4 linked regions of the Homo sapiens genome follow. The protein of the gene in region 4 purifies or fractionates together with the protein of the main gene of each other region. This does not show direct contact. Each region holds a gene or a part of one and is shown on either strand. Other genes may lie near its edges. The genes, in order: SLC25A13, HADHB, SDHA and EMC2.

Region 1 (7,899 bases), on a different chromosome or scaffold from region 4:
CATTCTTGGAATAAGTTAGACCAGCAGCTTCATTGAGGGACCTTTTAAGGCCACATTTACTGCACTGCCATTGAGTTATAATGAAGGACATGATAAGAAATGGCCTTATGTAACCCACAGACATATATCTGTGGTCACAAGGTAGATTCAAATGCCGTTCACTCACAGCATATAAAAGAAACTGCTCGGCTGGGCGTGGTGGCTCATGCCTGTAATCCCTGCATTTTGGGAGGTTAAGGCAGGCAGATCACGAGGTCAAGAGATCCAAGACCAGCCTGGCCAACATGATGTTGGCCTACTAAAAATACAAAAATTAGCTGGGTGTGGTGGCACGTGCCTGTAGTCCCAGATACTTGGGAGGCTGAGGCAGGAGAATCACTTGAACCCAGAAGGCAGAGGTTACAGTGAGGCAAGATCATGCCACTGCACTCCAGCCTGGCAACAGAGCAAGACTCCATCTCAAAAAAAAAAAAAAAAAAAAAACTGCTCTCAGAGAGCAGTATAAGGAGACTTCTCTCCCAAGTAAATGACCTCACTGATCATTTCCTCTTTGCTTTGGCTGGGAGAAAATGCAATCACCTCTAGTAAGCACATAATGTTCCACTAACCTTAGTCCTGGCTTTGTCTTACTTTCCCTTTGTCCTGTTTTTCCCATCTACTTGGAATTGATTTTTATATATCTTATTGGATTGCAAAATAAGTATATATGATGTGAGCCATCAGATATCACAGAAAGAGGTGAGTGCAAATGAAGACATAAACAAAAACACAAGCTCCCAAGTAGTAAAAATGAACATTTCATTTTCCCTGACTCAATACTTAGCTAAAAATCAACTGCCCTTGATATGTGACACTTCTACTATTATGTAGAAGTACAACCAAAGAGTTGAACTAACTTCCATATCACTTATTTTATGTTTTGTCGTTGTTGTTATTTGTTTTTGAGACAGGGTCTTGCTCTGTTGCCCAGACTGGAGTGCAATGGCACAATCTCGGCTCACTGCAATCTCCGCCTCCTGAGTTTAAGCGATTCTTCTGCCTCAGCATCCTGAGTAGCTGGGATTACAGGTGCCCACCAGCACGCCTAGCTAACTTTTTTGTATTTTTAGTAGAGACAGGGTTTTGCCACGTTGGCCAGGCTGGTCTCGAACTCCTGGCCTCAACTGACCCGCCCGCCCCAGCCTCCCAAAGTGCTGGGATTACAGGCATGAGCCACAGCACCAGGTCACTTATTTTACTTAATATTACTCAAGTCTTATACTCCATTTCTATGCACACGTCTCAATTTATGTTCCTCAATTACCTTATCTCCTAATAAAGTAAAAGTATTTACATTACCTGCAGATATAAAACTAACAGTAAAGAATGGGTACCTAGTCCCACCTACTCTAGGGAATTAGTTCATACCAAGCCTTGTACCTTGGTTGCATGCAAATTTAATGCAAAAAAAAGGTCAAGGGCTATTGGGCTTGAAAGGGTTAAGGCAGCTTCCAAAATTGAATCCTAGTGATGCTCAGAGAAACTGCTGAAAAGTTATAGATAGATATACACACGCACACCTGTGTGTTCATATGCAAACATACATGAGCCCACACACCCAGAGTACTTTCCTAAGGATGAAACTCAGAGTAATTACAGAAAAGAGAAATGCCACTTAGACCACAGAAACTAACAACATGAAGAAGCCTACGGATTTGGGGAGCCTGGAGAGACTTAAGTCATAGAACAGCATTTAAATATATTTGTCTGCTTACAATTTCCATTGCAAATGTGATTAGTTTGCTTGAATAAATAGGAATATGATGTGTTGGCCATGTTTTCCTCTTGAGGGTTATCACAGAGTTTTGATTAAGGACAAATGTTTGAAATGTTAGGTATATTTAAGTTCACTGCACTTAAAATGAGCTAAGAAGTTGTATAGGCTTGATTAGAGGGCTGCCTTCGTGAACTTAAATTAAAAGCAATAAATTCCAAATGATTCAAGTGATTGGGACTAAATATGGTATTCTGCCAGAGAAGTTGAAATGCAGTCCAAAGAGACTGAAATGGTGTCCAGGTTTCAAGAAATGGTGAAAGAGGAAAGGTCAAGTGTTGGAGTTGCCTTTCCTCTGGGTTAGTGAATGATTCACATTACACAGAACCCCTTTCAAGTACAACTTCACAGGAGTGACAGGCTCCCAGGACAATCTGTTTCATCGTTCCCAAAAAGAAGCCTCTCAAATGCTCCGAGGCGGGTATCTAAGTGTTGTCAGATGGAGAGAGGGAGGGGGAAGATGGGAATGATGGGAAAGCGGGGAGGGGGAGAGTCCCTGGACTTTTTATTCACAAAGGCGCAGACCAAGTCTCCTAGGCAGTTTCCAAAACGGAAGTCAAAGTAACTTCCCCACCCGCGGGAGGGCGGAGCCCTTGAAACGTAATAGGATCAGGCTTCAGCCCGGGCTCTGGCCCCTGGAAGAAGCCGGAGTCAACAACCAGCGGGGTCAGGAGCAGGAGCGCGCTGGGAAGGTAGAGAGGACCCCCAGCGCTTGCCGGCCCAGGGTGCACCAGGCCCCAGTCGCGCCCGCTCCTCCTCGTCGGCCCTGGCTCAGCCCCGTCAGGCACCAACTTCCCTCCCCGGCCAAGTGGGAGTGTCCGGCCCACAAAGTTTCCGCTGCGAGGTCGGGCCTCGGTCTCTGCACCGACCGCCTGTGCTGCCCGGGAGGAGTGGCCCCCTCCCTCCAGCAGCCGCAAGGTGGAACGGCTGCCCGGCACCCCATTTTGCTCCGCCTGTGGCACCAACCCAGACACGTGAGCGCCCGAGCCTCTCGCACCCCCAGGCTGATCCGGCAGGCGCGCTCCCCCCGGCCTCGGGCCCGCGGTTACCTTGGCGGCCGCCATGATTCGCCCCGGTTGCGGGCGACTGCGGGACCCACTGACTGGCTGGCTGGCGTTTGGGACCCGGGCGGCTCACTTCTAGTCCCGGCGGCGGCGGCGGTGGGGGCGGCGATACGGCCAGGCAGCGTGCGTTCCTGGCCTGCCTCCCCACGCCCTCCCGCCGGCGCGGGTCATGTGGATGCTGCCCGCCCATTGGCTGGGCCCAGCCTTGGCCGCCGGGGTGCGCGTGATCCAGCGGCCTCTGCCCTGCAGCCGGGGAGGGCTCAGATCCTGGGGCAGTGGCTGGACAGGGACACGTGACCCCGCTGCGCTGTCCAGCAGCGGCGGCCTCTGCGGCGTGGGCAGAGGTAACTTGGCCGTGTGCAAGCCCGTCACCTGAGGGCAGGTGGCCCCACCAGGGAAGCTGCTGGCTTCTGCTGATACCAGGGGCTACTGGGCCCTCGGACCGATGGGAGGGGCAAGTAACGACAGATGGTGCACGGCCTGGGGAAGTTGAGAACTCCACTAGGACACATACTTTGCTGGATATTTTTTCCCCTGTGCGTTCCCTTTGAAGGAGCTCCACTTTACACTGGATCCAAAAAGACTTTGATCCAAAAGCATTGACTTAGAAGGCGAGATTGCAAATATTGCTGGCACGCCTACTTTTAGATCAAAATCGGTGAACTCTTAAGAACCCAACAAGTGAATGTAGTGCAGAACGTATATTCATGAAACTACTCCATTTCAGCCCTACCTGTTAAAACGGTAGAAGTCAAAAGGCCCGGGTCAAAAGACTTCCCCCAAATAGGCCCTACTAAAATAAATAAACAAGCATTTTAATGAAAATTTGCTTATATGACCTCCAGGCCTTACTCCTCTTCATCAGGATTTCATTCTTCTGTCCTTGTAATCAAAATTTATAAGACAGTGGTGATCAGGGAAAAGGACTTTTAATGTATTGTAGGTTGTGGATGTAATATGGCAGCAAAAAGCACTTATTACTAATCAGTTTAATTCATTAACGTTGATTGAGTGCCTTCCTACTATGTGCTAGGCACTGTGCTTGGTGCTGGAAACCCCGAAATGACTTAAGAACTGGTTCCAACCGTTAAACAGCTTCAGGGCTATTGGGAAAGAGACACATAAATGTTTACTTCAGTATAACCTGTTAAGGCAGCAGACTGTTCCCAGGGCTCAATAAGAATACTGAGAATTCTCATGCCACTATGAAGAAATACCTGAGACTGGGTAATTTATAAACCAAAAGATTTAATTGACTCAGTTTCGCATGGTTTGGGAGACCTCAGGAAACTTACAGTTGTGGTGGAAGGCACCTCTTTACAGGGTTGCAGGAGAGAGAATGAGTGCCAAGCAAAGGGGGGAAAGCCCCTTGTAAAACCATCAGATCTCATAAGAACTCACTATCACAAGAACAGCATGGGAGTAACCGCCCCCATGATTCCGTTGTCTCTCACCGGGTCCTTCCCATGACATGTGGGGATTATGGGAACTACAATTTAAGATGAGATTTGGGTAGTGACACGGTCAAACCATATCAAAAGGTAACTTGATCTTGAGCTATGGGATTGGGGCAGTGGCACGACTAGTGGAAGGAGTCTGGCCCAGCAGGTAGGGGCTGTGTCATGGTGGGTCTTAGGCGCCTTGCTGAAGGGTATGCACCTTAACTGAAGGGTTTTAAGTCAGGAAGCAGCATGACTAGGTTTTCGATATAGAAAGATCTCTCTATGGTCTGAATGTGCCCCCCAAAATTGATGTGTTGGATACAATCTCTAATGCATCAGTGTTGGAAGGTTGGGTCCTTGGGGAGGTATTTTCATCACAAGGGCTCTGCCCTCATAAATGGATTAATGCTGCCATAAAAAGAGGTTTGGGGAGTGGGTTCACTCTCTCTTGCTCTTCTGCTCTTTTGCCATATAAGAACATAGCATTCCTCACCTTTGAAGGACACAGCATTCAAAGAGCCATCTTGGAAGCAGAGAAACCAGGCCGTAACCTGCCAGCACTTTGATCTTGGACTTCCTAGCGTCTAGAACTGTGAGAAATACATTTCCGTCCTGTTCTTCTAGTCTCAGGAATTCCCTTACAGCAACACAAAATGGACTAAAACACTGCTTGCAGTATGGAGGATGGGTTCCAACTGAACTACCAGGATGTCCAGACGAGACAGGCTGGGGATGGGCTAGGACTAGAGGAATACATAGAAGGTAAAATTAGTGGGGTTGGGACGGAAAAAGGGAGTTGTGCCATATTGCACATAGACTTGTGGTATGGGTGTCTGGAAAAACACCTGAGATTGGTAATTCAAGAGGAGTGTTTTGAGGTGTGTGAGTCTGTCTGTAAGGAGAATGTATGTCCAACATACAAATTATGTTGTAGAAGCTTAAGAAAGAAGCATTACAGAAAGAAGCAACTATTTAACCTACTCTCAAAAGGTTCAACAAAGCCCAGAAGACTTGACCATGTTCATAGGCAGAGAAGAAAGATCAGCAAAAAGTAAAAAAAAAAAAAAGACAAAAGGAAAACCAGGAGAATTGTTAGAGAAAATTATGACAAGGGGACAAGTCTGAAGCTCCTGTGGAGGATGGCCCCAGCTGCCACAAGGGGAGTGTAAAAGGAGGTGAGAAAATACAACCTCATGTAAAGAACAAAATTACATCATGTACCACGTATTTATTTTTAAGGGCATCATTAAAGCTCTCCTTTTATAATGTAAATGAAACAAAAAATTTTTAATGTAATAAAATATACATAAAATGTACCATCTTGACCATTTTGAAATGTACAGTTTAGTAGTGAAATACTTTCACATTGTTGTGCAGCCAATCTCCAGAACTCTTTTCATCTTGCAAAGCTGAAACTCTGTACTCATTAAACAACCACTCCATCTCCCAACCCCCTGACAACCACCATTCTACTTTGCTCCTATAAATCTGACTACTCTAGGTACCTAATAAATGGAATCATATGGTATTTGTGTTTTGTAGCATAATGTCTTCAACCTTCATACATGTTATATAGCATGTGTCAGAATTTCCTTCCTCTTCAAGGTTGAACAATATTCCATTAATTTTTTTAATAGAAAAAGTCCATTATACTTCTTCTTGACATTTTTGAAAATTCAGAAAATCATAGTAATGGCCAAAAAATCACTGATAATCCTATCAATAGAGTTAGCCATTGTTAACATTCTACTGTATTTTTTCATGTCTTGCTGTGCTTATGTGTGTGTATCAAGACATATTTATTTTACTTTATTTTTTGTTTTTGTATTTCTTGAGACAGGGTCTCACCCTGTTGCCCAGGCTGGAGTGCAGTGGTGTGATCTCAGCTCATTGCAACCTCCTCCTCTTGGGCTCAAAGGATCCTCTCACCTCAGCCTCCCAAGTAGTTGGAACCACAGGCATGCACTGCCATACCCATCTAAATTTATATTTTTTGGTAGAGATGGGGTTTTGCCATGTTGCCCAGGCTGGTCTCAGACTCCTGGGCTCAAGCAATCCTCCTGCCTCAGCTTCCTAAAGTGCTGGGGCTACAGGCATGAGTCATTGCGCCTGGCCTATTTTGTTTATGTATTTATTTTTAAGACTGTTGCCCAGGTTGGAGTGCAGTAGCGTGATCTCAGCTCACTGCAGCCTTGATCTCTGGGGCTCAATTGATCCTCCCATTTCAGCCTCCCAAGTCGCTGGGACCACAGGCACACACCACCATGCCCAGCTAATTTTTGTATATTTTGGTAGAGATGGGGTTTTACCAGGTTGCCCAGCCTGGTCTTGAACTACTGGACTCAAGTGATCCACTCACCTTGGCCTCCCAAAGTGCCGAAATTATAGGCATGAACCACCCACCTGACCATATTTTTGCATTTAAAACGATGAATTATACTCTGTGTTAGTTTCCTGTGGCTGCCATAACAAATTACCACAAACTTGGTAGCTTAAAACAATAGAAATTTGTTCTCTTACCATTATGAAGGCCAGATGTCCGAAGTGAGTCTTGTGGGGCTAAAATCAAAGTGTCAGCAGGACTGTTCTCTCTCAGAGGCTTTACAGGAGAATGATGTTTCTTTGTCTTGTCTAAGGGCTCATGGCACCCTTCTTCACCTTCAGAGCCAATGGGCATAGCACCATATATCTGACTCTGCTTTTATCACATGACCTGTCTGTCTGTAACCTTCCTCTACCTCCTTTTTATAAGGACATGTGTGATTGCATTTAGAGCCCACCTAGATAATCCAAAGTACTCTCTCCATCTCCAGATACTTAATTTGATCACATCTGCCAAGTCTGTACTGCATAAAGTACCATTCAAAATCTCTAGGGATTAGGATCAGGACATGGACATATTTAGGGGGCCTATCATTCAGTTTACCAAACCTACCACACTATGGATACATATTGTAAAAGTATATTTCAATTTACATTTGGAGTCATACTTACTTGATTAAGCTCCCCTCCTCATTCTAGAATTCCTCAAAATATGAAATTTTAAAAATATTAAACTGTCATGAACCTAGAAATAAAGAAGTCAAAGATGCTCCCTGGGCTCCATTTCATCTGTAAATAACAGCATGATGTGAAACATCATCTAAGAAGATAAAGTGTGAACTGGCTAGGTATCTTTCATTTTTTCTTATCATTACAGGCTTACATGCCCTCCTGATATTTGTCCCTCTTCACTATTCCCAGATTACCCTCTTTCCTACCATTAACAGTAGCTGGCACTGAATTTTGACTGAAAAGGCCCTGTTATGGATTAAATTGTGTCATCCAAAAGTCTTAACTCCCCAGTACCTACGTATTAGTTTGTTCTCATGCTACTAATAAAGACATACCCAAGACTGGGTAATTTATAAAGGAAAGAGGTTTCATTGACTCACAGTTCAGCATGGCTGGAGAGGCCTTAGGAAACTTACAATCATGACAGAAGGGGAAGCAAACATGTCCTTCACGTGGCAGCAGAAAGGAGAAGTGCTGAGCAAAGGGGAAAAGCCCCTTATGAAACCATAAGATCTCATGAGAACTT
Region 2 (7,025 bases), on a different chromosome or scaffold from region 4:
TCTGGATCTATTATTTTGGATAAGCTTCCACTATCATAGCATGGCCCTGTAAAGAAAACAAAGTCCAATTAGAGCAATGAATGGTGATGAATCCACCTAGTACAGGGACAGCAGAGAACAAGGAGAAAAGTACAGGCTTTGGAGTGGGATCCTGGCTCTGCCAATCAATCACTGTGATCTTGGGAAAGTTTGTAGTCAGTCTAAACTGGAATTTCCTCTACAAAATGGGGCTCATAGTGTCTACTTCATAGAGTTTTTGTGGGCATCACATAACATACAGTATATTTGTATATGTGTGTATATATATACACACACATATATATTTATATACATTCATATATACATGTATACATATATGCATCAGGCTCTGTCTAGTACAGAATCTAATTCCTAGTGATGCTCTACAAATGGATGCTGTTAAAATGAGAAATCCAGGGGCTTTTTTAACTGTATAAACATAAACATGATACAGCAAATACCAATAAAAGTAAGTTTCTAGAGGGGAAAACTGAGGCTCTGAAAGGTTAAGTGACTCACCCAAATCACAAAGCTATTAAGGTAACAGGGCCAGGATTTGAAACCAGGTCTAGATGATTCCAAAGGCTGGGCTTGTCCCTTCTTCACTATTCTACACAGGTTAAGATAATGATCTGAGGGACCACAAAGGGAAGAAGTAGAATATCTTTCTTTTTTTATTTTTTTTATTTATTATTTTGGAGACCGTGCCTCGCCGTTGCCCAGGCTGGAGTACAGTGACGCGATCTCAGCTCACTGCAAGCTCCGCCTCCCGGGTTCACGCCATTCTCCTGCCTCAGCCTCCCGAGTAGCTGGGACTACAGGCGCCCGCCACCACGTCCGGCTAATTTTTTGTATTTTTAGTAGAGATGGGGTTTCACCGTGTTAGCCAGGATGGTCTCGATATCCTGACCTCGTGATCTGCCTGCCTCGGCCTCCCAAAGTGCTGGATTACAGGCATGAGCCACTGTGCCCGGCCAGAAGTAGAATATCTTTTATCCAGCACTATGCACAGTGCTATGTACTAGCTATGTCCTTAGTTTAGATGAGTCTAAATCCTAGCATAGAATTTTTAGACACCCTCTAAAAAACAAAAAAGTAAATAAAAGAAACTATTATTTACAAAGTGCCAAGTTGAACACTGCAGGTTTAAAGATTTGCCACATGGTCTTTGTCCTCAATCAAGTATACACTGGAGTTCAAAACAAACTGTTAAGTACTTGGTTTTTCTGTTTTTTTTGAAACAGGGCCTCCCTCTGTCACCCAGGCTGGAGTGCAGTGGCCTGAACACGGCTCACTGCAGCCTCAACCTCCCGGGCTCAGGTGATACTTCCACCTCAGCCTCCCGAGTAGCTGGGACTACAGGCACCCACCACCACGCCCAGCTAGTTTTTGTATTTTTAGTAGAGATGGGGTTTTGCCATGTTGTCCAGGATGGTCTCGAACTCCTGAGCTCAAGCAATCTGCCCACCTCAGCCTCCCAAAGTGCTAGGATTACAGGCATGAGCTACCACACCTGGCATGTTAAGTACATTGAAAAGGCACAAGCAGACAAAAAAAGAGCAGGGATAGGAAGGTTTGACTGACTTGGGGGTTGTCCTGAAAGAATTCATAATAAGGTAGACTACTCCTCTCTGGCTTGCTTATTTTATTTTTTATTTATTTTAATTTCTTTATTTGCTTTTTGAGACAAGGCAACTCTGTCACCTAGGCTAAAGTGCAGTGGCGTGAATACAGCGCACTACAGCCTCAACATCCCGGGCTCAAGCAATCCTCTCACCTCCCTCCTGAGTAACTGGGACCACAGGTGCGTACCATCATACCTGGCTAATTTTTGTATTTTTGGTAGAGACGAGGTTTTGCCATGTTGCCCAGGCTAGTCTCGAATTCCTGCGTTCAAGCCACCCAGCTGCCTTAGCCTCCCAAAATGCTGCGATCACAGGCATAAGCTACCGCACCCAGCCCTCTCTGGCTTTATTTTAAACACACTGTTTTCATGTTCCATGTTTTTTCTTGCTCTAGATCAGATTTGGCAACACCTGGAGATACTTTTGGTTATACCAACCGTGTGTACCTGGGGCAGAGGTGGGGAGGAGCTTGTTGCTACTGCTATCCGATGGGTAGAGGCCATGCTAAACACCCTACAACACACAGCCCCCCAAAACAAAGAATTGTTTGGCCCAAAATGTTAGTGCCAAAGTTGAGAAACCCTGCTCTAGATTCACCACGATGGATTTCTCCTCTGTCTCCAACCATGTTGGTATTGCTCACGTGGCTCTTGATCAAACAATGTCAAGTTTAATCTAGTTTCTCAGATGCATCTTATCTTCTCTCTTCATACTATAAACTTCTAGAAGAAAGGTGCTAGGTATTATTCCTTGTTCATCCATAAAAGCATCCAGTATTGTGTTATTTATACTCTACATGCTAGATAAAGAATTAGGGAACACATACTCAAATCTGCAGACATTACCCTATGTGGATTACGCACTATGCTCGTGAGTAATGTGTACAGGTTATCTCCCTGGTAGAAGCCTGGCATGAAGAGATAGAGGGATCGCTCTAGTCTTAATGGACCATGGTTTTCTGTAGATGAAGTTACACAGATTAAAAAGCATTTGTGATCATAAAGTCCAAAATGTTCCAACTGATAAATAACTGACCCCTTGGTTTCTGCAAAGTCTCTGAGGAAAATCCATGAAAAAGGGCTTTTAAACGTAAGATTTATTTCATTTACTTTATTTTTGAGACAGAGTCTCTCTCTGTCACCAGGCTGGAGTGCAATGGCGCCATCTCGGCTCACTGCAACCTCCACCTCCCGGGTTCAAGCGATTCCCCTGCCTCAGCCTCCTGAGTAGCTGGAATTACAGGCGCACACCACCACACTAGGCTAGTTTTTATAATTTTAGTAGAGACAAGGTTTCACCATGTTGGCCAGGCTGGTCTCGAACTCCTGACCTCAAGTGACCTACCCGCCTCAACCTCCCAAAGTGTTGGGATTACAGGCGTGAGCCACTGCACCCGGCCAGTTTATGCTTTTAAATATTTATTCATTTTGATCAGGAACAGGAAGTTTCTGTAATCTAGAGGAAGAGAAAATCTGTTCACATCGGGATTAAAAAAAAAAAAAAAAAACAAAAACAGGCCAGGCACAGTGGCTCATGCCTGTAATCCCAGCACTTTGGGAGGCTGAGGTAGGCGGATCACCTGAGGTCAGGAGTTCGAGACCGGCCTGGCCAATACGGTGAAACCCCGTCTCTACTAAAAATACAAAAAAAATTGCCCGGGCTTGGTGGTGAGCACCTGTAATCCCAGCTACTCAGGAGGCTGAGACAGGAGAATCGCTTGAACTCGCGAGGCAGAGGTTGCAGTGAGCCGAGGTGGCACCACTGCACTCCAGCCTGGGGGACAGAGTGAGACTCTGTCTCAAAAAACAAACAAACAAAAAACAAACTACAATCTTCCTTTTGGATTTTATTCCTAGAGTGAGATGCTACAGCAGTCAGGAAGTTGGGTCTCTAATGCAAGTGAAGTAGAAAGGAAAAAATCTGTCAACAATATATTTCCCCAGCTGAACAGCAGTAAGTTATCCAGAAGTAAATTAACTCCCCAGTTAAGGTATAATTCAGTTCTCTAGAAAGATAGTTTCTCTCTTGGAGAGATTTTATAAAGTCTTATGGTGACTAGATAAATAAAAGTTAATTATTAAAGAAGAAAATATATCAAGATGTTAATAATGTTAATGTCTGATGGGGAGATTATAGATGATTCTAACTTTTTCTATATACTTTTCATATATTCCACAATTTTCATAATCAGCATATATTTATAAGTAAAAAATAAACATTATATTGGGGAAAAATAGCTTGGGTTTAAATAGCTGTTTCCTTCCAAAGAATTATCAGAATTATGGCAGGGCATGGTGGCTCATGCCTGTAATCACAGCACTTTGGGAGGCCAAGGAGGGTGGATCACTTGAAGTCGGCAATTCGAGACTAGCCTGGCCAACATGGCGAAACTCTGTCTCTACTAAAAATACAAAAATTAACTGGACATGGTGGTGCACACCTGTAATCTCAACTGCTCGGGAGGCTGAGGCACGAGAATCACCTGAATCCGGGAAGTGGAGGTTGCAGTGAGCTAAGATATTACCACTGCATTCCAACCTGGGTGACAGAGCAAGACTGTCTCAAAAAAAAAAAAAAAAAACCCAAAAAACAAAAAGTTTTATCAGAATTACAGCTGTTATCCCTCCCCACTCCCCACCCCCAGGTCATCAAAAATATTGCTTTAAGAAGGTTTCAAACTAAATCATACATTCTAGTCATTCCAAGAAAATGACTCTCTGGAGGGTCCTATGACACCACTGTAACGTACCTGCCCTCCAGCTGCACACGCAGCCACTAAGCCATACTGGCCTCCTTCTTTCCGTAATCTGTTGGCAGCAGCCATGACCAACCTGCAGCCAGTGGCTCCAAATGGGTGTCCCAGGGACAGAGATCCACCCCAGTTATTAAACTTCTCCAAAGGAGGCAATCCAACCTGGCTCCCCCAAAGACACAAATGTAAAGATAAGTTTACTTAAGATCAGAATCAAGCTAGGCTCTTAGTACTACGAAGTAAGAGAGATAGAGGAAAATACGTAACGTCAGACATATTACAAATAATTTTACTGCAAAAGAAAGTAAGTCTAGGTCAATATTAAAAGTCAGGAGTCCATTTATTTTTCATCTAATGTCAGAATGCAAGGAACAAAAAACACAGAATTTTATTTTTGCTAAATAATTTCTATTTTTAAACTAAGAAATAAATATATTTAATGAAATACAAGAATTTCTACTTTTACACTAAGAAATAAATATCTTTAATGAAAGACAAAATTCTTCAAAAGAAAGAGAAGCTTTCCCTTCATATTCTTAAGAACAGGTAACTAAGATCCAATTATTAACGTGCTTTGAAAATTCACGCATTTTTTAAAATTAGAAACTCACCTTGGTTTTTCTACCCATGTAGTTTTCTGCAAACCAATCAGAATCCATGGCTTTAAAATTTGCCAAAATCTGACCCTGGAAGAGAAAATAATCGAATAAGAACCTCGTTATTCATGTTCCTCTACGCTTTCTTATAGGAATGGTTTGTGAAAGTTTAACAACTTTAGGTATGGTTTAAAGTTGAACAAATCGGCCAGGCACAGTGGCTCACATCTGTAATCCCAGCACTTTGGGAGGCCAAGGCGGGTGGATCATCTGAGGTCAGGAGTTCAAGACCAGCCTGACCAATATGGTGAAACCCTGTCTCTATTAAAAATATAAAAAAAATTAGTCGGGCATGGTGGCAGGCGCCTGCTTGTCCCAGCTACTCGGGAGGCTGAGACAAGAAAATTGCTTGAACCTGGAAGGCGGAGGTTGCAGTGAGCCGAGATCGTGCCACTACACTCCAGCTGGGGCAACAGAGCAAGACTCTGTCTCCAAAAAAAAAAAAAAAAGTAAAGTTGAACAAATCTTTGTATCAGTTTTCAATGGCAATTTCCTAAAGAAGCAATTTGGTATGTTCTCCAACACTGTATGTGTGGCCCTTGCTTCCCTCCCCTCGGGCCCCTCCCAGCAGTGTGAATCAGTACTTAAAATATGCAGGTCCACTCCTGCTCTACTCACATCATAAACCATGCCTTGCTCTCTCCCACAAATATGGATGACATTTTTTATGACTATAGTCCCTTCATATGTGTCTTTCAAATTACTTACCGAGAAAGCTTCATGAAATTCAAAAGCATCAATATCATTCATGGTCAATCCTGCCTTTTCTAGAACTTTTGGAGTAGCATATGTTGGTCTGCAAAGAAAAAATAAGTAATATCTTAAAACTTTAATTTTTAAACTAAGAGCTCCTTCATATTCCCCAAACTGAGTTTTACATAGGTACTCTAATGTCTTTTCACTCATTCTTTGATTTTTCTGTACTGATTAATGAAATGTTAAAGATAAAATAGTGAAACTGTACAGACATGCCCTCTACTCTTATGTTGCAGAGTCAGAGAAATTGATAATAAATAAACAGTGAGGGATAAGGACAAGCTAATAACATGAAGAACTGGAAGAACAGAGTTCAAAGAGCAAGGCAAGGGAAAGGGCTTGACTGATGTGAACGTCACAGTGGAGGCTAGAGGCTACAGCCTTGTGAGGGAACGGAACAGAGTCTAAACATGGGGAGGCTTTTATAAAAGGCTATATTAGGAAGATTGTGTAGCAGGGTGTGTAGCCATATGAAAAAATGCATATGCTATCTTAATGAAAAAGAATATAAGTTGTGTGTGTCCATATATATATGTAAAACTTATAGGAAAAAAATGGAAAATAATCCAAAACTGTAACATGATATACCAATGGAAAGGATTACTACTATTTTATTTATTTATTTATTTTTTTGAGATGGAGTCTCGCTCTGTCGCCCAGGCTGGAGTGCAGTGGCGTGATCTTGGCTCACTGCAAGCTCTGCCTCTCGGGTTCATGCCATTCTCTTGCCAAAACCTCCCGAGTAGCTGGGACTACAGGCGCCCGCCACCACGCCTGGCTAATTTTTTGTATTTTTAGTAGAGATAGGGCTTCACCGTGTTAGCCAGGATGGTCTCAATCTCCTGACCTCGTGGTCTGCCCACCTCGGCCTCCCAAAGTGCTGGGATTACAGGCGTGAGCCACCGTGCCCGGCCAGATTACTATTATTTTTTTTAAAAAAACCACCACATAAACCAATTATGAACTCAGGGCTTAATATACTCTCAAACCAGTGTAATAAACAAATAAATAATAAACCAGTGTTAATCATTTATTAACCAGTATAATAAAACATAGGCAATCAAATACTTGTGATTATAGTCCAAGGATACAAACTGCTACCTACCCAAGTAATAGTTGATCTTTTGGATCCTGAGACACATACATAAAATCCCTAGGTAAAAAAATAGAGAGGTGAGCTTTGGTAATAAAATAAAGAAATCAGAGATGATTTGTTTG
Region 3 (7,025 bases), on a different chromosome or scaffold from region 4:
TGTCCCTTGCCCTCATTCTGGTAAACCAACAGCCTTCTAGCGTGGGCGTCATGGCCATCAAGAGCATGTCACAGTGCTGCAGAGATTTTGTTTATGGTCAGTTTTGGGCCACATTTGGGGGCCTGTTCCCAAAAATTTACCTCATTTCTTTTTTTTGCTTCTTACTATGAATAGCCAGACTCAGCAGAAAAATCCCTTCCCCAACGGAACGCATTTCCACGAGCAGAGGAAACTCTGTTTGTTCAGTGCTGACTCCAGCATCTCGTGGAGCCTGGGATACAGCAGGCACCAAGACACACCATGTTTGGTGGGAATGCTTCTAGTATTCTCACTTTAAACTATCTCATGGATTTGCCATTTCTATATCCGAAGGCATGTTCCCATTCTCTAATGCAATGGTTCTTTCTTTCCCAGCTGGCCTCCAACCCTACAATAGTACTGCAGGGCATCACTCAGCCTTCTGTGCCTTAGTCACACTGTTCTTCTCACCATTCCACAAAGCCTCCCTGAAGCCCAGCTTCACTTGAAGACTGAAGGGCACAGGCCTCTGAAAATGTCAGCAGGGAACCTGTTCTCCTGTGTCTAACACCACATAGGTGTTAGACACCTATTTCAGAATAGGACTAAAGCAATGGACTTTTTAGAAAATACACAGAAATTCTTGCAAATAGTAGGCAAGAGATCTCATTCATGGACAAGAATCCTTGTTATTAGAGGAATTCAGTTTCTTAGACTGACCATGTATCAGGTTCTCCACGGCCCCATGGCTAATGGCTGCCATACTGGATGGCAAACACTCGGAACATTTCCATCATCACAGATGGTCCTACTGGACCGACTCCCAGCAGCACAGGCCACAGATCAGTTTCCACCTGCCGCCCACTCTCCCTCTCTTCCGAGTATATTTAGAGGCAGCAACAAGTCCAGCTTAAAGACATTTCCGAGCTGCTGGAAGCCAGGCATGATGACATGATCGATATCCGGGCCTGAGATGTAAGCACCAGTGTTGTGTTGAACTCCAGGAAACCTCTAAGAGAAAGCTGCCCTGCTGGGGACTGAGCTTCTCCAGCGGTCCTGCAGTTCCCTCTCCTCCACGCTGTGACTCATCCATGACAGCCAGCAATGGTCAGGTCACGGAGGTCACACCCAAGCACACACGAGTGAACCACAGAAGGCTGTCCTGGATGCCAAGCAGTCACTAATTCTGCCCTAGTCTGCCGACCTTCTATGTGGAAAAGAAGTGCACTTCTGTATAGTTCAGGCCTCCTGGTCTCTTTCATATTCTTGATACGGTGAGGAGTACGTCCTACCGCTGTTTACCTCCAGATACTGGTGCAGCCTTATGTATTTATCGCAGCACTAGTCACAACAGCAAAGTCATGGAATCAACCTAAGTGCCCATCAACGGATGACCAGATGAAGAAAATGTGGTACATATATACCATGAAATACTACTCGGCCATAAAAAAAGAACGCAATCATGTCTTCTGCAGCCACACGGATGGAACAGGAGGTCACTATCCTAAGTGAAGTGACTCAGAAGGTCAAGTGTCACACATTCTCACTTGGAAGTGGAAGCTGAATGGTGAGTACACATGGACACATGGAGTGGAGTAGCAGAGACTGGGAGCTCCAAAAAGCGGGAGGGGTGGGGTTGAACAATTACCTACTGGGTACAACACACACGACTTGTGTGACGGGTACATGAAAAGCCCAGACTCCACCACCTCCCAGTACATCCACACAAAACTGCACCTGCATCCCCCTAGATCTAGTTTTTAAAAAACAAAACCAGTGCAGGGCCAGGTATGCAGCCCTCCTGCTCACTCCAGAGCGAGTCCAGGCTCTTACCTTCTGCATGCTGAGTCGCAGTTCCGATGTTCTTATGCTTCCATCAGCAAATCTCAATTTGTCAAGATTCATGACAGATTCTTCCCCAGCGTTTGGTTTAATTGGAGGGACTTTATCTCCTAAAACAAAAAAAAGCTAGAATTTAACTTTTGAAAACCGTTTTAAAAAACCAAATGGATTTAGAATGACACACAAACATGTAGCACAGCCACTCAAGGAGCTTGGAAACTCTGTAAGTCTCCTGAGCTAACACACTGCCAGCCCACCCTACAGCTGAGGCCATCTGTTGAGTTGGGGCCAATTTTAAAGAACATAAAGGCAAAATTGTTGGCACACAGTAGATATCCATTAAGTGATCTTAGAGTGAATAAACTAGAAATCATCTCTAAAATTAAAAAATTAAATGTAGGCCGGGTGCGGTGGCTCACGCCTGTAATCCCAGCACTTTACGAGGCCAAGGTAGGTGGATCACTTGAGGTCAGGAATTCAAGAGCAGCCTGGCCAACATGGCAAAACCTCGTTTCACTAAAAACACAAAAATTATCTGGGTATGGTGGCACGCGTCTATAATCCCAGCTACTCGGGAGGCTGAGGCATGAGAACTGCTTGAACCCTAAAGGTGGAGGTTGCAGTGAGCCGAGATCGCGCCACTGCACTCCAGCCTGGGCAACAGAGCGAGACCCTGTCTTAAAAAAAAAAAAAATTAAATGTATACAAATTTATATATATTAAGTGTATATAAATGTCACTCCACTAAGGGAAAAAAGAGACACCTTCCAGATGGTGGTCCCAAGGGGCCGGCCACCCTTCACATCAGCGGGGGGAAGGTGGCTGCTGTGTGCTTGAAAGTCACCTGTTGATTTGGACTCTTATGTGCTCTCAACTATACTTCAAGATTAGCAATTTTTTTTTTTTTGAGATGGAATTTTGTTCTGTAGCCCAGGTTGGAGTGCAGTCAGTGGCACCATCTCGGCTCACTGCAACCTCCATCTCCGGGTTCAAGCAAGCCTCCTGCCTCAGCCTCCAGAGTAGCTGGGACTACAGGAATATGCCACCATACCTGGCTAATTTTTTGTATTTTCAGTAGAAATGGGTTTCACCATGTTGGCCAGTCTAGAACTCCTGACCTCAGGTGAGCCACCTGCCTTGGCTTCCCAAAGTGCTGGGATCACGTGTGAGCCACTGCGCACAGCCAAGATTTGCAACTCTTGTGTTTCTACGATGTCTTGAAAAAAGTTTTTAAGTTTTTTTTATAACGTTATATATATTTTCTTCAACAGGTAATACATGCAGGAGGTAGGATGTATGAAATGCAGGAGTCAAACAGGCCCCACCCCGCCCACCACCTCTCCACAGGACCAGGCTATGGGTCTCTTGAGGGTCTGCTCAAATGCTTCTAGGCTCGCTGGTGTTTCTCTTCCTTTTGATAATAATGCTTTAAAAATTGATCATTCAGTAAAATTGACTTTTTTCTTTAGGTGGACAGTTCTACAATTTACTTTTTCTTTTTTTTGAGACAGTGTCTCCTCCCTCTCTTGCCCAGGCTGGAGTACAGTGGTGTGATCTTGGCTCACTGCAACCTCTGCCTTCCAGGCTCCAGCAATCCTCCAACCTCAGCCTCCCAAGTAGCTGGGACTACATAGGTGTGAGCCACCATGCCCAGCTAATTTTTGTATTTTTGGTAGAGACGGGGTTTCACCACGTTGCCCAAGCTGGTCTCGAACTCCTGAGCTCAAGCAATCTGCCTGCCTCGGCCTCCCAAAGCGGTGGGATTATAGGCGTGAGCCACTGCACCCAGCCTCAGTTCTACCAATTTTAACACATGTATAGGCGCATGTAACCACTTCGGGAGGCTGAGACAGGAGGAACACTTGAGGCCAGGAGTTCAAGCCCATCCTGGGCAACACAGGGAGACCCTGTCCCTACAAAACATTTTTAAAAATTAGCCAGGTGTGGTGGTGTGCACCTGATCGTACCACTGCACTACAGCCTGGGCGACAGAGGGAGACTATCTCTTAAAAAAAAAAAATACATATATATGTGTATATATATGTATTTTTTTTTGCAGGGGGTTTTGGGGGAGAATAGTGATGCTACAAGCATTTTTTCTTTCCTTTTCATTTTTGAAAATTAAAGCATAAAGATACAGTAAAATAAACTCATCATTTTTAGTGTAGGGTTTTTCAAATTTTGACACACACAGAGTTGTGTCTGTAAGTCTCAGCACAATCAGGAAGCAGCCTCTGGCAACCACCAATCCCTTGTCTTCCCTAGATGTGCCTTTTCCAGAATGTCGTATCAACAGAACCACAGGCATGCAGCCTTTTGAGTCTGACTCCACAGCATTCTGCGTGAGATGCTGCATGCGTGGGCGGTTTCTCAGATGTAAAGTATAGGGTATTCTTACAAAATGTTCTTTTTTGCATTTTCAAAGAAAGAGCAGCTCAAAATTTCTACATTGCTCTGAGAGAAGTGGTATCAGTCCTCACTGCGACAAAGTGCAGGGCTATGGAGTGAGACAAGCACTACCTGCGGCGTCAGGAACGATGGACCTGAACTCCGCCTTCGCCGATGATCACCAATGGCTGGGGATGAGACGCCAGCTCTGCGTGTGCTGGCCTCCCGAGCGGTGGTCAGATCCAGAGACAGAGTGTCTGAAGTAAGCTACCCTTTTAATACTATCTGCACCTTTCTAACTACAGATACAAAAGGGGGCACGTTTATAAGTTACAGCCGTGCTAGTTTTTATTTCACTTGAATCCATACAAAAAGCACCTGTTGTATAAAAACAGCAGAAATGATGCTAACAGTTAACACCAGAGAAAGGTAACGGGAAGAACATGGGCCTGGGGTCCCACCATCCTTGCCACGCAAACATCCACCAGTGCCTCATCCACCTCACACTGTTCTGAGCACACGAGGCTGGATAACCACCGTGAGGATGTCTGGAGGTGGGAGAGATGCTAACTGCCCCGTTCTTAGTGCACGTAAGACTCACACTCCCACACATGGTATTTCCTTTACTGCACATTATTTGATGCTATCATGAAAAGAAAACCAGCAAGTGAAATCCAATCTGTCCGTAAAGGGTGGGAATCCTGTTCACTGTAAGTCATCCCTTCTCCTCTAATAGAGGCTAGCTGTACTTTGTTTCTAGAATGGCCTAAATTACTTTTCTAAGTACCAAGAAGTTACATATTCATTCATGCCAACTACTTAAAATATTTCATTGCAAATAAGTGATTTTTATCAGGCAAGTAATATGTAATGATTCCCCTAAAAATAACAACTTTCTAATAGTGCTTTTTCTAAACAGAACATAATGACTGCAAAATAATTAAAAAAAAATGTAACCCCAAAAATGTCACCTTAACTGTTAAGATCCCCAACCAGCCTCTATCTAGTCTCAACATTACCACCATATAATTTCTGGATTTCTCAGTTTAATCACTTCTGGGGGAAAAACCCAGACTACCTCTATATGATCACTAAGCAAATTTCCAGTAAGAAATCAAGGCTTTGTAACCTGGCTGGGTGCAGTGGCTCATGCCTGTAATCCCGATACTTTGGGAAGCTGAGGCAGGACTGTTTGAGTCTAGGAGTTCAAGACCAGCCTGGGCAATATTGTGAGACCCTGTCTCTACAAAATAAATTTTTTTAAAAATTAGCCAGGTGTGGTGGTGCACATCTGTAGTCCCAGCTACTTGGGACTCTGAAGGTTGAGGTGTTGAAGACTGCTTGAGCCCGGGAGGTTGAGGCTGCTATGACTGTGCCACTGCACTCCAGCCTGGGCTGACCCTTTCTCAAAAAAAAGAAAAAAGACTTTCTAACGTCCTGCGCCTTCTCAAATAGTCTGGCTCCTGAAGAAAACACTTACCAGGCCTGCATGACTCTTCGATGCTCAGGGCACATGCCCGACCAAAGACAACCAGGTCCAAGAGCGAGTTTGCCCCGAGGCGGTTGGCACCATGTACCGAGGCACAGGCGGCCTCCCCACAGGCGTACAGGCCGGGCACAATCTGATCCTGGCCATTCACGTGCCTCAGGACCTGTGGAAAGGAAGATTTCAGGTGAAATGTCAAGGTGCCCATGCCTCCACCAGCCCACCTTCCCCAACAGGGTGTCTGTGCTGCAGGTCAGAGAGAGGGAAGTAGGCCAGGCGTGGTGGCTCACGCCTGTAATCTCAGCACTTTGGGAGGCTGAGGTGGGTGATCACCTGAGGTCAGGGGTTCAAGACCTGTCTGGCTAACACGGTGAAACCCCATCTCTACTAAAAATACAAAAATTAGCGGGGCATAATGGCGGGTGCCTGTAATCCCAGCTACTAGGGAGGCTGAGGCGGAAAAATCACTTGAACCTGGGAGGCAGAGGTTGCAGTGAGCTGAGATCGCACCACTGCTCTCCAGCCGAAGCAACAGAGTGAGACTGCATCTCCAAGAAAAAAAAAGAGAGGGAAGTAAAGACCGTATCTAAGAGGGAAGTAAGGACCATAGCTACTCTTCTTCAGAGGGAAGCTTCCGAAGGTATCCCCCAGTTTCCCCTCTGCCCCTGAGCACCTGCTGTTACAAGCAGGTCAGAGGACCTCCAATGTCAGCATCTGCGACTGTCCCCCGTGTCCCATGTTCCCGGGGCCCTCACCACCTGTGCTCCGGCTCAGACCCAGGAGCACGGCAGGTGGAGGAACATCAGCAGGGGAGACTGATGTTCCAGACTGTTCTACCCCGTTCACCTCTTCGTCTACGCAGGGAGAGCAACAGCTTCCACCCACCTCGCCCAACAAGGAGCCTAAGTGACTGACAAGCTCTGTGTGAACCACAAACCACTCAAAGGAATGAATTATAAAGATCCCTTGATGTGTAAGATCATTAGAAATAACACAAGATCATATAGGAAAGTAATTACAAAATGGAAAAAGCTGCAAATGATGTATCTCTGACAATTTACTAAGGAGGAATAAATTATTAAGCCCCCTCCATCCTCCGGTAATAGAAATTTAAAGTGCAATCTAGAAAACAATACAGTACTTTCTTGAAGGAAACATCTATCTTTTCCTGTAAGATCTAAAGAGACAACTGCGAGGTGGGCCCCGTCGTCCCAGCCTTCTTTCCAGCTGTGGGGGAGGAGCCAGCACCATCACCTGCCCCTTGTAGTTGGTGGGAATGCCGCCCATGTTA
Region 4 (7,025 bases):
AACATAGAAATAAGAATTATAACAGAAAAAAGGATGCAAGTCATAAATGTGCCTTTCAGTGACTAATATAAGGTAAATGTATCCAGGCTAATAAATATAAACATTGCAGCATCCCAAAGCTCTCTTGGTAAGTCCTCTTAATTTCTCCTTTTGTATTCCTTAAGAGTACTCACTTATAACCCTATAGTTTATGGAATCAGCCAGTATGTATTCATTTTTGTCTTGCATATTTCTATCATTATTCAGTTTATGGGATTTATCCTTGTTTGTGTCTGTAGTTCATTCATTTTCTTCTGTAGTTCATTGTATGAATGTTATAATTTAGTTATTGCTATGCATTTGGAATATTTTCTGTTTGGGCTATTTTGAATAAACTATACTGAATATTGCTGTACAGGTCTTTTGGTGGAATATATGTGCAGTTCTGTATACCTTTGAGTGAAAATATGGGTCATAGAATGTATGTATATTTAACTTTAGTAGTTAAAGGCAATTTTCCAAATTAGTTTACTCCCACCAGCGGTAAGAGTTCTAATAGCCCCACATCTTCACCAACACATGGTTCTGTCAGTCTTTGTAATTACAGCCATTCTGGTACATGTGTAGAGTGGTACTTCATGGTTTTATTTTGCATGTCCCTGATGATCAGTTGCCATTTGGATGTCCTCTTTCGTGAAATGTTTTTCTCATTGGTTTGCATGACTTATTTCTTTAGTTTTTTGCTTATGAGCCCTTTTTTAGTTATATGTATAAGCAAATATGTATAACTTCTTACTTTTTTGCTCATATGATCTTGATGAATAGAAGTTCTGAAATGAAATGTGTTCGAATGCCTCAGTCATTTGTTTGTGTTTTTTGTGTTCTGTTTAAGAAATCTTTTGCTACTCACGGTCATAAAGAATTCTGTGTGTCTTCAGAATTTCTATTCTTTTACTTTTCGTATTTAATCCACAACCCATTTGGAATTGATTTATTTTTAATTTTTAATTTTTATTTTTTTAAGACAGAATCTGGTTGGTTCTGTTGCCCAGGCTGGAGTGCAGTGGCATGATCATGGCTCACTACACCCTCAACCACCCAGGTTGAGTTATCCTCCTGCCTCAGCCTCCCAACTAGCTGGTACTGTAGACGCATGTCACCGTGCTCGGCTAACTTTTAAATTTTTTGTAGAGATGAGGTCCAGCTGTATTGCACAGGCTGGTCTCAAACTCCTGGCCTCAAGTAATCCTCCTGTCTCAGCCTCCCAATGGAGTGCTAGGATTATAGGTGTGAGCCACCGCATCTGGCCTGGAATTGATTTTTATGTATGATGTGAAATAGGGGGTCCATTGCTCCCCATATGGATATCCAGTGTTTCTGTCCATCTTTGTGTTCCATCATGAGTCCCGTCCATGGAAGCTAGTTCAATGTAGTAAAGAGAAGATTACAGATTTGAACCCATGTTGTCTGGGTTCAAATTTTGACTCTGATATAATTATTAGCTATGCAAACTTGGATAAATTACCTAACATCTCTTGCTGTATCTTTTCTTCTGCAAGATGGCCATAATGAAATATTCTGAGAATTAAAGAAATTAAAACATAAGTTATTATGTTTTTCCTTTTCCCTGTCTCTTCAGTGTGACAAGACCCCCTTGAGGTATATTGAGATATAATTTACATGTAATCAAGTGCATATATTTTAAGTATACAGTCTGAGTTTTGACAAATGTGTACATCCCCTTACCAGCCCCCCACTCAAAATAGCATTTCCATCACCCAAGAAACTTTCCTTCTGCCATTTTGCAGTCAACCTCATCCCCCACTGGGAGACAGACAAGCACTGATCTGATTTTTATCACCAAACATTAGTTTTGCTTGTGCTATAACTTTGTATAAATGAGTTCATAGGTTATGTGCTCTTCTGTGTCTGGCTTCTTTCACTCAGCATGTTTTTGAGATTCATTCATTTACAGTCCATTTCATTTTTCCTATTACTTTGTCTACCCATGTATTTTCCACAAATTATGTAAAGGTAAATTTAAGCCCAAGCAAGGTATCTCAGTTATTACAATGCATGAATCACTGACCTCTGAATTTGATAAGCAAGTTTTTATTGTTTGGTTGTTTTTGTGTTTTTTTCTGGTGAGTTTTCTTATAGATCTTACAGAGAATTATGAAAGATTTACTTAAGCAAAATCTAACTGTATGAAAACAAAAATACAGTATTTGTGAATAATGTAAAAGAGTATATAACTTTCAGAGAATGACATTCTTGATAACTAGGTAAATCTTTGGGATCTCAGTGAGAATTTCTTAATCATATCTAGGAATATAAACCGGTATAGAGTATATAATATTTCGTATGGGATTTTTCTACGTATTTATAAATTAGGGAAAATTAGGTTTCAAGAACTGCTTTTCTTTCTTTGTTTCCACTTAATGATGAAACAGAATATGGCTACTATTTGCTCGTCAATTAGGTAATTGGTTTAGCATGTTCAGTAGAAGCAGACACATTTGATTAATGCACATGAAAAACTTTAATGTGAACCTACTCACAATGATTTTCCAGATAAATCCTTCTTTGTTGCACTGGTAAATCTGTGCTAGTGATTTATATGATATTTATGATTGCAGCAGTGATTCTGTTACTATCCTTTTGGGAAACAGAAAATTAAATCATGATTTGAGGGAAAAAATGATTCTGACTTAATCAGTTAAATTGCCATACAATTCTGGAATAGACAGAATAATTGCATGTCAGATTAAATTTGAAGTGATAGATTTGTATTTCCAACTTTCTTTTATTTGTTCTGACACAAGTAAATTTATTTGGTTTATTCTAAATTGCACTGGTTGTGAGTAATGTTGACACCATCTCAGTTGACTCTTTAAAATTAGCTAATTTTAAAAGATCACACTGTATTATTTTTATGTTTAAGTATAAACCAAGAAAAATACTGTATTTAAAAATACATGTTATGGTTTTAGCTCTACATAATTTTTTTTATTTTTACTTTGCTATTTAAAAGCAATTAGAATAAATGTTACGTGGTAATGTTACTATGTGATGTCCTATTCTGTACCCCTCCCCCAACCCATAAAACTTTTTCTCAGAATTAGACCTTTAAGTATCTGATTAGGACCGTTCCTATTTATGTTTCATAAATGGTGGTAAATGAAAAAGCTTTCTGTTTCTGGTAAATCCTTGTGTAAGTGAATTTATTAACTGGATAACAGAAGTAATAAGCATGCCTCACAGCCTTTAGTCCTCAGGGGAAATTATAAAAAGACAAAATTTTAAATGTGATATTGCTGTTACCATATTTAACATATGAATTCCTTAAATTCGTGATGCCTTTTGAAAGGCAAGGTGATCTTGATTTTTATGAGAAGCTTTTTTTCTTTTTCCTCTGGCATTTCCCCTAGAAACATCCTTTATTTACTTTTTCAAATCAGGATTCAGCTACAGAAACTAATCTAATGGTTTAGAGTGTAGGAAGTGAGGGAATCATAATGTTAAGCTGTAGCCAGAGGGGTCAGAGACAGGTTACCAATTCCTGAAGCTTGTTACTTCTATGATGTTACCTGTGTTTGATCACTTAATCTTTCTGAACAGGTCATGAGAAGTTTGCCAAATTAAGTTAATTACAGAAGACAAGAAACACATCATAAATCAAGTACTAAGTGCTTAAGACAGCATTGTTACTTGAAGAAATGATCATTCACTTGAAAATGTATTGAGTGGTTTGATGTTAACTTGAAAACACTAGATGTTGCTAATACCAAGTATTTTAATCATATTTAACCAGGGAGAAAATGGGTAACATATATATATATAAAATATATACATAATATATAATTAATATATATACATATATATAATATATATAGGTAACATATATATATAAAATATATACATAATATATAATTAATATATATACATATATATAATATATATATGTATATATATATACACACACACACACATACACACACAATAAACTTTCTCCCATCTCCATCAAGGAACACTTACTTATCTAGTAAATCTTTTGTTTTAAATCAGACTGATAAATGATGGGAATTGTCAGTCCAGTTAACAAACTCATTTTGAAATCAGCATGTGGTATTCAACAGTGTTTCCCTCCAGCGGTTATGTGTATGATATTGAATTTAATATGCCATGAATTTGCTTTTAAATACACAAATATAGGGTATATTTTGTGTATATATTGATGTATTTATTTTGTTTTCATAGTAAAATCCAATCCCAATTAGTTTTATAATGTAAATAAATTACAATTAATAAAGTAGAAATGCATATTTTAAAACATGTTTACATTGTTTTAATGTGTAGCATAGGTTTTTACTTGACAGCTCTTTGCAGAACCATATCATTTAGTTAACTAATAAATCTGGAAACTTAAAAAAAATTATGAGCTACTTTAAATAATTTTAGAGAGTACTTGCAACTTTAAAATGTTTAGTGAAATAACTTGTATTTGTATTGTACCTTTGTTTGAAATTGTAAAAATCTGTTTAGACATCAGACAAGTGGAAGTGGTTCACACTGCTACACTACATAAATATAAGCTAAATTGCATTTTAAAATTATACTTTTTATTTCATTATTTTGGTCTGAATAAGATAGTTTCAAATACATGATTTTATGGGTTATTATATTATGTAAACACTTAAACTGGCCAAGTGTGCAGTGAACTCTCTGTACACTTCAGCTGAAGGTAAGACCTTAAAGGAAAATGTCCTTAATACTCAAATTTTATTCTTATTGAAAAAGCAAAGAATATATTTGATTTCCTACTAGTGATAAAATAGTCAATGTTAAGTTTCATTAACAGTGTGAAGATTGTCATTTTTAACCTGCCACTGAAATTGAGCCTAATTGAGCTTTTTTTTTTTTTTTTTAATTAGTTTGCAGGTCGAAGTAAGAAGGAAACCAAATATTCTCTTAAGGCTGTCGAAGACATGTTGGAAACATTGCAGATCACCCAGTCTTAAGGTTTCAAAAACTCTTTGACATTAGATTTCACAACTGCACAATTGAACTTATTGGCCTGTAACTTATTTACTAAATGCTCAGTGCTATTTATATACTACAGTAATTTTCTGTTAAGAAGGCAGTTGTAAAGAATGTGTTTATATAAACCTAAAAATGCCTTTTACTGCTAAGTGGGGAGATGGGGGAAATCCATGGAAGAGAGATTTAAGACTTATTGATTGTACATCAGTCTCTTCATATCACATATACATGTATATATATAAAACTCTAATGTAGTATAACCTTGTTAAATAAACCATGATGATTTATTAAACTTGCATATGAAGATTCTAACTTCATTTTGTTATACTCACAGTGGATATATTGTTTAAGAACTCAGTTTCTAGTTAACTCCTTACTGGTGATAGCAAAGTCACAGCATATGTAGCTGACCGAAGCAGATTATTTTGACTTTGTTTATATTGTCGAATTGGATTTTGCTGTACATTCCAGTGGGCTATTTGAATTGTTTTATCTGCTGTAATATCCTTCTGATGAATCTTGCTTAAAATATGTCATTCTCCAAAGTTCAGCAATATTTCTTTGTAAAATTTTTGTTTTGATATAGGACATAATTGAGATTTTTACATATAAAATGCCTTAAGATAAATATGTGTTACGACACTTTAACTTTTATGCAAGTTATATTTATTGAATCCTTTAATAGTAAATTACATGAAAGAATATTAAAGAATCATAAAGAGTAGGGATTAAAGGGGTTGTAGTTATTTTTAATTTTGAAAAAAATAAGAAAATTAAAACTATCCTTAGAAACAAAAATGTTAAAATTTTCCTATTCTATCATTACCTTAGTTAGAATTTTTTATTTTTCTCTTTTCATAATAAACAACCATTATGCTACCTTCAACAGTATTTGACATGTTTCAACAAAATAGAAGAGACTTGAAAGTTAAATTTCATTTAGACACAAATCAGTTTTTAAAATAGCAACTGTTCACCGCAAATATTTATGGTATTTGTTTATAATAAATATATTTAAATTTATTTTTACTAAAAATATACAGAGGCATCTACAGACTTGTCATTGCTGCTTTGGACAAGTGGGGATTGTGGAGGAATTGACAATCTAGAAGTGTTTAGAAAGAAAAGTATTGTCAATATCAGCTTCTTTTAACCTTTTGAATAGTTCTGCTAATAAATTATTCTCCATATCTAGTCTAATCTTTCATATTACAGTCATTTTCGTTTTATTCTGCCACGAGTAATAGGCAGCTGATTAATATATTCTGTGAAAGAACTCTTCTCATCTGAAGGTAATTCTCTACTAATCTTTATTACCACAAAGATCCCGTCTTTGTACACATGAAATTAGTAACTGCATTTTCAACATGATGAACCATTTGAAATTTACATTTTCTGTAAAGAAAATAGTGCCTGCACGTTGTTTCACTACCTTTTCCCCTTCAAACCTCCTCCCCGTCAGTCACTGGATTAGTGTTTACTCTAGCAATTATATTTGTGTAATAAGTAATTCAGTGCCTCTTATAGCTGTCTGCCTTAGTTTCACTTTTTTTTTTTTTTTTTTGAGACAGTCTCGTTCTGTCACCCAGGCTGGAGTGCAGTGACGTGATCGCAGCTCACTGCAACCTCCTCCCGGGTTCAAGCGATTCTTGTGCCTCAGCCTCTGAGTAGCTGGGACTACAGGCATGTGCCACCATGCCTGGCTAATTTTGTATTTTTAGTAGAGATGGGGTTTCACCATGTTGGCCAGGCTGGTCTGAAACTCCTGGCCTCAAGTGATCTACCCGCCTCAGCCTCCCGAAATGCTGGGATTACAGGCATGAGCCACTGAGCCTGGCCAGTATCACTTTATTTTTTCAAAATTTTAATAACTTCTTTCCAAGATTTTATATTTGTTAAGCACATTGCCAATCCTTAGTTATTTATAAACTTCAACTTAAATGTACTGATAATCCCATTACAGCAGGCAGTTGCCTACAGCTATTACCTTTATTTCTTCTTTA

What was found.
Region 1: the proteins of EMC2 (region 4) and SLC25A13 purify together in Homo sapiens (affinity purification with mass spectrometry; 2 studies listed by BioGRID, with this or other methods). This does not show direct contact.
Region 2: the proteins of EMC2 (region 4) and HADHB purify together in Homo sapiens (affinity purification with mass spectrometry; 2 studies listed by BioGRID, with this or other methods). This does not show direct contact.
Region 3: the proteins of EMC2 (region 4) and SDHA purify together in Homo sapiens (affinity purification with mass spectrometry; 2 studies listed by BioGRID). This does not show direct contact.

The regions. Positions count from the first base shown.
Region 1 is NC_000007.14:96,319,080-96,326,978, forward strand, and holds the start of SLC25A13 (electrogenic aspartate/glutamate antiporter SLC25A13, mitochondrial), read right to left. Parts: upstream 3,020-7,899; 5' UTR 2,878-3,019; coding exon 2,863-2,877; intron 1-2,862. UniProt on the Homo sapiens protein: Mitochondrial electrogenic aspartate/glutamate antiporter that favors efflux of aspartate and entry of glutamate and proton within the mitochondria as part of the malate-aspartate shuttle.
Region 2 is NC_000002.12:26,282,939-26,289,963, reverse strand, and holds part of HADHB (trifunctional enzyme subunit beta, mitochondrial isoform 1 precursor), read right to left. Parts: intron 6,961-7,025; coding exon 6,913-6,960; intron 5,848-6,912; coding exon 5,760-5,847; intron 5,082-5,759; coding exon 5,007-5,081; intron 4,558-5,006; coding exon 4,393-4,557; intron 47-4,392; coding exon 11-46; 3' UTR 1-10. UniProt on the Homo sapiens protein: Mitochondrial trifunctional enzyme catalyzes the last three of the four reactions of the mitochondrial beta-oxidation pathway.
Region 3 is NC_000005.10:235,303-242,327, reverse strand, and holds part of SDHA (succinate dehydrogenase [ubiquinone] flavoprotein subunit, mitochondrial), read right to left. Parts: coding exon 6,989-7,025; intron 5,901-6,988; coding exon 5,729-5,900; intron 1,971-5,728; coding exon 1,852-1,970; intron 1-1,851. UniProt on the Homo sapiens protein: Flavoprotein (FP) subunit of succinate dehydrogenase (SDH) that is involved in complex II of the mitochondrial electron transport chain and is responsible for transferring electrons from succinate to ubiquinone (coenzyme Q).
Region 4 is NC_000008.11:108,481,599-108,488,623, forward strand, and holds part of EMC2 (ER membrane protein complex subunit 2), read left to right. Parts: intron 1-4,913; coding exon 4,914-5,000; 3' UTR 5,001-7,025. UniProt on the Homo sapiens protein: Part of the endoplasmic reticulum membrane protein complex (EMC) that enables the energy-independent insertion into endoplasmic reticulum membranes of newly synthesized membrane proteins.